Linked DNA regions of Homo sapiens: all the other regions are linked to region 3. Evidence: fine-mapped expression QTL. Tissue or cell type: fibroblasts. Region 3 holds a variant in brackets; each other region holds the start of a gene. All regions are shown on one strand. Distances are from middle to middle.

The links. PIP is the estimated chance that this variant, and not a neighbour inherited with it, causes the effect.
Region 1: it holds the start of XDH, and the variant in region 3 is fine-mapped to the expression of XDH in fibroblasts (GTEx, PIP above 0.99).
Region 2: it holds the start of GALNT14, and the variant in region 3 is fine-mapped to the expression of GALNT14 in fibroblasts (GTEx, PIP above 0.99).

The regions. Positions count from the first base shown.
Region 1 is chr2:31,413,643-31,416,142 of GRCh38, forward strand. It overlaps XDH (xanthine dehydrogenase), which reads right to left and starts at 1,100. Exons shown (of 36, transcript NM_000379.4): 1 at 983-1,100. The coding sequence starts at 1,024.
Region 2 is chr2:31,137,041-31,139,540 of GRCh38, forward strand. GALNT14 (polypeptide N-acetylgalactosaminyltransferase 14) reads right to left here and starts at 1,400. Exons shown (of 15, transcript NM_024572.4): 1 at 918-1,400. The coding sequence starts at 1,046.
Region 3 is chr2:31,383,477-31,386,234 of GRCh38, forward strand. XDH (xanthine dehydrogenase) reads right to left here. Exons shown (of 36, transcript NM_000379.4): 10 at 279-371. Among named protein-coding and RNA genes, the nearest start is that of XDH, 30 kb to the right of the region's middle. RefSeq lists an enhancer at 1-92. The variant G/A (reference allele first, on the strand shown) is at 1,576.

The DNA.
Region 1 (2,500 bases), 30 kb after region 3:
TCAACTCAATGCAAAAATGCCAATATAGAAAGACAAATAAAATTGCCCTTCTTTGGGGGACACTTTGGGCACATTCATCACGCACAGTCCACACAGTAAGTTACAATGTGCAACTATGGGACTCTTTTACTATCCTTTTCATTCCTAAGTGGGAAGTTGAACAGGTATGAGCATCTCAGCAGTGTTGTAGGAGGGCAAATGGAGGCTAGTGACCATGTAATATGCTTGCCCCCTCTCTCTCTGCACCACATTAAAATTTGCAAAGATTCTCACTCTTGTCCAAGGGCTGGTACCCATGTCACCTTCCCTAAGTCCCTGTGTACCAATAAGGTAAATTCAAGTAGGTAACAGATTTGCAGCTTACATGTAGAACTCACTGTGTGTGGGTGGGGAGTGGGGGGAATGCAGGAGATGCCCTTTATGAAAAAAAAATTGTGGTTTGCCACAAGGTGTCAGTATATGTCACCTCACAGTGAATCAGGACTGGCTGTTAAACCTATATATATAATATATTAGAATCAAAGGCTGCGTACATCTTATATCCTGATAAAAGCAGGAAAACACATTCCTGTTCCTTCTCTCTGTAAAGAGAGCAACGTAAATTTTAGGATATATTTGATTAAAGACAGAAATAGAAGTGTGGTGATGACCTCAAATCTCACCTAGAACTCAACTCCCCTTTCTCATTCTGTGCCAATCTCCACTACTGCAGAGAGTTGGCAGCTAGCTCACAGATGCCTCTCTGCTTGCCTCTCTCTCCCTCATTCTTTGGCCTCTGAGTATCTTGTCTGTGCTCTAGCCCCGAGAAGGTCTTCTTCCCTAATGTTACCAAAATGCAGCGACACCTTTAAAGCGAGAGAGAGAAAGACAGAACAAGTAAGAGGGGACAGGAAAGACAGAGAACAAGATATGGCTCTGCCAGAGGACACATTTCCCCTCCCAGGGAGAAGGGACACAAAACCAAAGGTCAGCTCCTACTTACCTTTCTGCCATTCACAAAGAAAACCAATTTGTCTGCTGTCATTGTCACAGGTTGGGGTCCCCGAACTCCAGGTACCTCACTCCTAAGAGACACTGGCAGGTAGTTATCACTGCTCTGTGACCTGAAAGTTACGCCTCCCAATAAAATGAAATAAGGTCCACCAATGGGAGGGAACCAGCTCAGAGCTTCAGGGCATGAAGAGTTCTTGGCAAAAGCCACTGGTTTACATAATCAAGGAAGTGCAAACAATCACACACAGCAAATTACAATCTCCACACCTGTGTCAAAGAGCACAGGAAACTACATCCAGATATCAGTAAGGTTGTTGACTTGGCACTAGGCGACTGTGGGTCTTGGGCGCTGCTCTTATGAAACCTGCTTCGTCCTCCCACTTGCTGCAAGACAGAGAAGGGGAAGACAGAGGAGGGAAAGGACTATTCTCAGAGTCACTGCTAATAGAGCTGATTCACACCCTCTGTGTCTACATTTGTCATTTTACCATTCAGGTTTACAGCAACACAGACTGACTGCATGAATGCAAGAGTCATTCTTTCACAGCCTGGTGGAGCAGAGAGGTCACAGGACATGGAGCCCCATGAACCTGACTCAAATCCTGGCATTTGACCTCAGCATGTTACTTACTACCTTCAGAACTCAGTTGCTTTCATCCTGTACAGGATCATAGAATGATATCAAGAATAGAAGAATGAGGGACAAATGACATTTTGGGAGTGCCTTGTAAATTTGCAAAGAACCAAAACATGTATCACTGTTGAAAAGACATCTTCAACATCTCAACAAATAAAATCCTAATAGCAAACTATTTTTGAGATTTGTCTTTTATTTGTTTCTCTCAGGAAAATATCCTTGACAAGTTGTCAGAGTAACTCATAAAAGTATTTCAAAACACCAAATAAATTAAAATGCTCATACCACATAGTCATAGGCTACAGTAACACATAGCTGAAAACCTTTCCCCATCCAATATCCATTAACTCTCAGTGGAAACACAGATGTGCACGTCCACTGGAGCAGCACTAAAGGGCTCTCTGCAGTCCAGCACCCTCCCAACTGCCCCTACCAGTTCTTTAGTTCAACACACACACACACGCAAAAAAAAAAAAAAAAAAAAAAAAAAAAACACACAGAGACCAGCATTCACTCTGGTCTTCTTCTGTCCTGTAATGACCCATACAGTGGCTCAGCCAGCCTTCCTTAAGTAAGACACCTCCCCTACAACCCTAGCAGGCTACCTGAGGGGGAAGAAAGGAGTATTAGGCAGATGTACTTGATATAGCAACAGCTTAGAGAAACTGAAGACTGACAGGACAACCACACAATCAACACAATGCCCCCTCTCACCACAGCCTTAATTTAACCAGGAGATGAAACTTTACTTGTTGGTTGACCAAATATCCCAGTTTGCCCTGGACTATCCTAGTTTTAGCCTTGAATCCCTGACAAATGCCTCAGAGATCCTAGTAAATCCTTCAGTCCAGGGCAAACTGGGATGGTTGG
Region 2 (2,500 bases), 250 kb before region 3:
AATCCCCCAGAGGCCTCCTTCCGTGTCCCCGGGCCAAATCTGTGAAGAGAAAACGGAAGGCTACCATGTCACGAAAAACTATGATCAAATAAATTATTATGCCTTTTCTCCTATTGATCTGCCTTTTGTCAACTGATTTTCAGTGAACCTTCGGAGAGCCATGGGGAAGTTTTCCCTTTCCCCCTACAGGGCTCTGAATCTGAAGGTAAGAGTGAGCCTATAGGGGGAACCTTCTGGCTCCCTCACAGGAACTGACTGAGCAGGAGTTGGAAAAGCCACTTGGATTCCCATTTCCTCAACTCCCCGCCAATACCAAGGCGTCTGTTTTTACAGGCTCTTTCGTGGTGTTCTGGGCACATTCAACTTCCAATGCAGCTGAGAGGGTCGGGAACAGTTAGAGAACAGGGGTGGCAGCCGCCCGGGAGGCTGCAAGGCGCTCGCCCGCAACGCACAGGCGCGCGCGGCGCACCCGGCCTCCGGCCTCCCCAGGTCGGGCCTGGCAGCTGCGGGAAGGAGGTCAGCGCAGCCGCCACACTTCGCCCGGGCGCTGGCCCGACCCGACCGCCGGCGACTCTCTGGCAGCGCCCGGAGACCGCCAGCCCCTGGGCCGCCCGTCCGCAGAGCCCCCTCCGCCCCGGGACCCTCGCGCGCAGCTCAAGTTGGGAGCCCCGCTCCGCAGGCGAGCGCGCGCCCACCACCCACACCCACTGCCACTCATGCACACCGCGGGTCCGGAGATGCCCCCGAGCGTTTTAAAATCCAGAAACATCACATGGTAGCCACATCCGGCGGCTGTTACCTGCTCGCAGCACCCAGACCCTCGCCCTGGTTTCCCGGGAGCCCGCAAACCCGGCACGCGGGCTGCGCGCCCTCCCGCAAGCCACCGCTCAGCGCCAGCGCGCCGGCAAGCCGCCTACCTTAGGGGTCTGCACTTCAGGTCCCGTCGGCACCTCCAACTTCCTCTTGGTTACCCAGAAGAACAGCAGCACCGTGATCCAGAGCACCCCGAAGACTGGCAGAACCAGCCGACGAGTCAGGCGCCGCATGGTCCCCTTTGCCGCTTCCTCTCCGCGGCGCTACGTCCCGGGGGCACCCCCCGGCGGTCAGGGTTGGCGGGGCAGGAGTCCTGGCGAGCGCCTCGCTCTGGGGAGCTCTAGACCCAGGATCCGGTTGGAGGGGCGGCAGGATCCTGCAAGGCGCCCTTCCCGCTTCGAAGAGAAGCGAGCCTGGGTGGGGGGTGCAGGGCGACCCGAAACGTGGCAGGGAAGGACCGAGGGCAGCCAAGCTGGACGCCCGCTCCAGCGGGAGAAGCGCGGTGGCTGCCGAGATGTTCCCCACGCCGCCACCGCGGCTGCCGCCGCCGCCGCCGCCGCCTTGCCCGCTGCCGCCGATAGGGAAACTGACTCGAGCAGCGAGAGGGAGGAATCCGAGGCTGTGCCAAGCACCCCGGGAGGAGCACGAGGGCGGAGGGAGTGAGCGGGGAGGGCGGGCCCGACAGACAGGCCGACTCGGAGCGAGCCCAGGTGGGAGTGAGCGGGGCTCTGAGAGGGGGCGCTACCGCCGCCCGCCGACCGAAACGCTCGGTGCTGTTGCGGGGCCGCCAGCGCCAAGCCCTGGGCGCAGCTCCCAGACCATCGTGGGTTGGGGCAAGGCGGGGCGGGGCGGGAGCGGTGCACTCGGGATGCCCGCCACCCCCAGCTGCCAGCTGGGACCCAAGGGCCGGCCCTCGCCAGGCGGCGCTGTGCCTGGGAGGACTTTCCCGCTCATCGCGGGGGCTGCACGTGGCGCTGAAGCCGGGGTCCCACCCCCAATGTGCTCGTCCTACCACAGCCAAGGCTGGGATTCCAGGGCGCCGGCAGGGCTGCTGCCCCAAACCCGCGGTTCACTTGCCTGGCTACTGAGGGCCAAGGCCGCGGTCAGCCAACTCCCCAGGGTGTTTCTATGCCTGCCTGCAGGTGCCTGGTAACTTTTTCTGCTTAACGGAAGGAAAGCTGAGCTGGTCTAATTTTAACTTTAAAGATATCCTTTAAAAAATTAAGGCGCAATTATCTCCCATAAAGGTTTTCTCTCCCTGTAAGCATCAGGGCTTTGTGCTTGCAAGAAAAGAGGTCCAAAGTTGGAACAACCACTTGGGATTCTTGGAAAGTGACCCTGGGCAGGAGGATACTGGGTGCAGAGGGTGATCTTTCAAAAGCCCCTTTTCCCAAGGGCCTTTGGGAATTGTATCCCCCTCCCACTTGCAGATTAAAACCGCTTGGATCTAGAAGCAAAGCAAATTCTAACTCCAATTCCCATGTAGGCTCAAGTAGGCTGGAATCACGGCCAGATCACTGACCAGAGAGTACTGACCTAGCTGTCACACTCACTGTGTGAGTCTTGGGTAAGTCATTTACCTTCTCCCAGTCTTCGATTCCTCATCTGTAAAATGGAGGGAAAATACCTCCTCTGACAAGCAAATGAGTAGTGGTGAAAGCTGAATGCAAGGTGCTGGTGTTATCTG
Region 3 (2,758 bases):
CCCCACCTCCCCACCCCCGCATGAGTGATTCTAATGTGTAGCCAGAATTGAGAAAAATGATTGAAGATCCCGCAGCCTCTTGCCCACTGGCACCCTACCATGGATGTTTCAGCAATGAATGGGGTCTCCTCCCGCCTTTCCCTGTGCAAGGTGAGCCCCAGGAGAAGCAGGGGGCAGCCAGAGCCAGTGGGGAGACCACCCTGATACCTGCCACCCACCTTGTAACCTATCCCCAGCCTCACAGCCCCTCCATAAGCTTGGAGTGAACCTCCTCTTACCGTCGGGTCCATGTTCTACCGAATTCAGCTCAGGGATCCAGGCTGGGCAGACAATCATAGGAAACAGCATATTCTTGAACTTCATCTCAATGCCTAGAGAGAAACAAGAAGCTGAAGTTGTAGGCCCATTGTTGTATCACCAGGGCAGGCCTTAGCAGCTTTTCTCACCATTACACACAGGATATATGACATATCCACAATCATAATATGCTCTCTGGTGACTGTAGGTGTCTGGGAATAGGAAACTCAGTAGACCAGGGGTGGGATTAGATGCAGTCTTTGGACTGTCAGCCCAAAACTAGGTCTTTCTTTCCCTCTCAAAAAACCTACCTGAATTCAAATGAAATGAGTTTGAATTCACTCTAGTGTGTGTGTGTGTGTGTGTGTGTGTGTGTGTGTGTTTGTGTACATTAGAAAACACAGGAAATTAAGGTATGTCAGGAACCCTTCTAAGCACTTTCCCTATTTTAACTTAATTAATGCTCACAACAACCCTATGAGGTACTATGATTTTTCTGTTTATAGATGAAGAAGCTGAGGCACAGAAAAGTTAAGTTTCTTGCCCAAATCACACAGCTAAGAATAACCAAATTTCAGTACTGGAATGATTATTCGTGTTGGGGTATAATCGTAATAAAAACATGAAAGTTTAACATTAAAACAAAAAAGGAAAATGGGAGGGAAAACTTCAAATCTGTCCTCCAGTTCCCACTATCTGCCTGAGTTCTTCAAGTTGTCTGGCTTTGCGGGGCCACACATCTGTGTGTGGTTTCTGGCCTTCCTGACTAAATGAGTCAGAAGCCTCTGTTAAACAAGTGTGCCTCTGTTCCTTAGACCCAGTTGGCTCAGCACCTCTCCCAGCCCTGCCAACAGTGTATAGATGGAAAAGGTTAAAAAAGAAATACCTGTGACCTCTTTGCCCCCCCTTCCCCCCAGGTGCTGTTTAGGATTTCTGAAGGGGGCCCTAGGCTTTGTGGATCCCCAGATTCCAGAATCTTCAAAGCTCCCTTCAGAAATCCTAGAAGCACCTGAATACCAGCCCCTTTTGAATATCAGCTTCCAGGACAAAGAACACAGATTGAAGCAGCAAGTTCTACGTTACTAAGGTTTTCTCTTTGTCTGCCTTCCCCCAACACTCTGCGTTGACTGGAGGTGACTATGCTATTGGGGTATGTATAAGAGAGAAGGGAGTGGCGCAGAAGGAAATGGTCTTGAGAAATCATTTCTAATTGTGGAACTTAGGTAATCTTTGTTATTCATTTCTCTTGGAATCCAACTGGGCCCAGGACATTGGATG[G/A]CTCATGGCAGGGAGCATGCAAGTGTGAAATGATCCCCTTGAGGCTGGGGTGGGGGACCACATGAGCCCATGAGTTTGAGGTGAGCTATGGTGACATTGCACCACTGTATTTCAGCCTGGGCAACAGAGTGAGACCCTGTCTTTGAGGAAAAAAAAAGAAGGACCTCCTAAGATTCCCCCAGCCACCTTAAATCAAGCTACACCTGAGCTACATGAGCCATGAGTCCTGTTGAGCCATGGCCATCAAGATCACATTTCTTGAGGTGTGTCTCAGCCCACCCTGCTGCCTCAGTGTGTCACAAAACCACAGTTGGGGACTCTATCTTATGTATATGTGCGCACGAGGGAGGCGTCCATTCTGACTCCATCAGCACTGACCCAAGCCAGGCTCTCCTCTCTGTGGCTGAGGAGCCAACCAGAACTCAGGGCTTGGCAGCTCCTTCAGGAACCAGAGCCAGGACCTGACTGCTTAGAAGGAGAGCATGCCCCTCCACAGCAGAGGTCCTCAGCTGTCCCACGGTCTCCTCCTTAGATCCTCACTAGGCTTGGGATCCAGCAAAGTAGAAATAGGCCATGCCAGGTTTAGAAATCGACAGAGATTAGCAGGGACCTGGGAACCTCTCCCCATCTCTTACAGCACTGGGGCTGAGAGGTGCATATTCTGAGTCTCCCAGCCTGTTCAACTATTCCAGGCCTCACGTCCTAGGTGGTAGCACTGACAGGGCAGGTGGCCATGGTCATAGGCAACACAAACACAGTCACACCTGGAGCTCTCCTCTTCTTTACCTTATCACATCCTCCCCCAGAAAAAGTGGGGTGGTGGGGTCAAAAGCGACATTTATGGAACCTCTAGTGTCCATCAGCCACTGGCCTAGACACTTTGCTTAAATTAGTTCCTCCTCCCTTAGACTAGAAGGCCCTTGAAGGCAAGGAACCATGTCCAATTGAGCTTTGTATCCCAAGCCCCTTCCAGAGTACCTGGCTCATGCTCGGTGCTCTGTAAATGTTTGTGGAGAGAAGTCAACTACATGCAAGGATCTCATTTCACACCCAAAACAATCCTTCAAGGAGTTGTTAGTATCCCCATATAAAAAACAGAAAATGAGGGTAGATGAGGACAAGCAACTTTTCTGAGGTCACACATCCAGCAAGGGGCTGAGCCAGGCCTGTGGGACTCCACAGC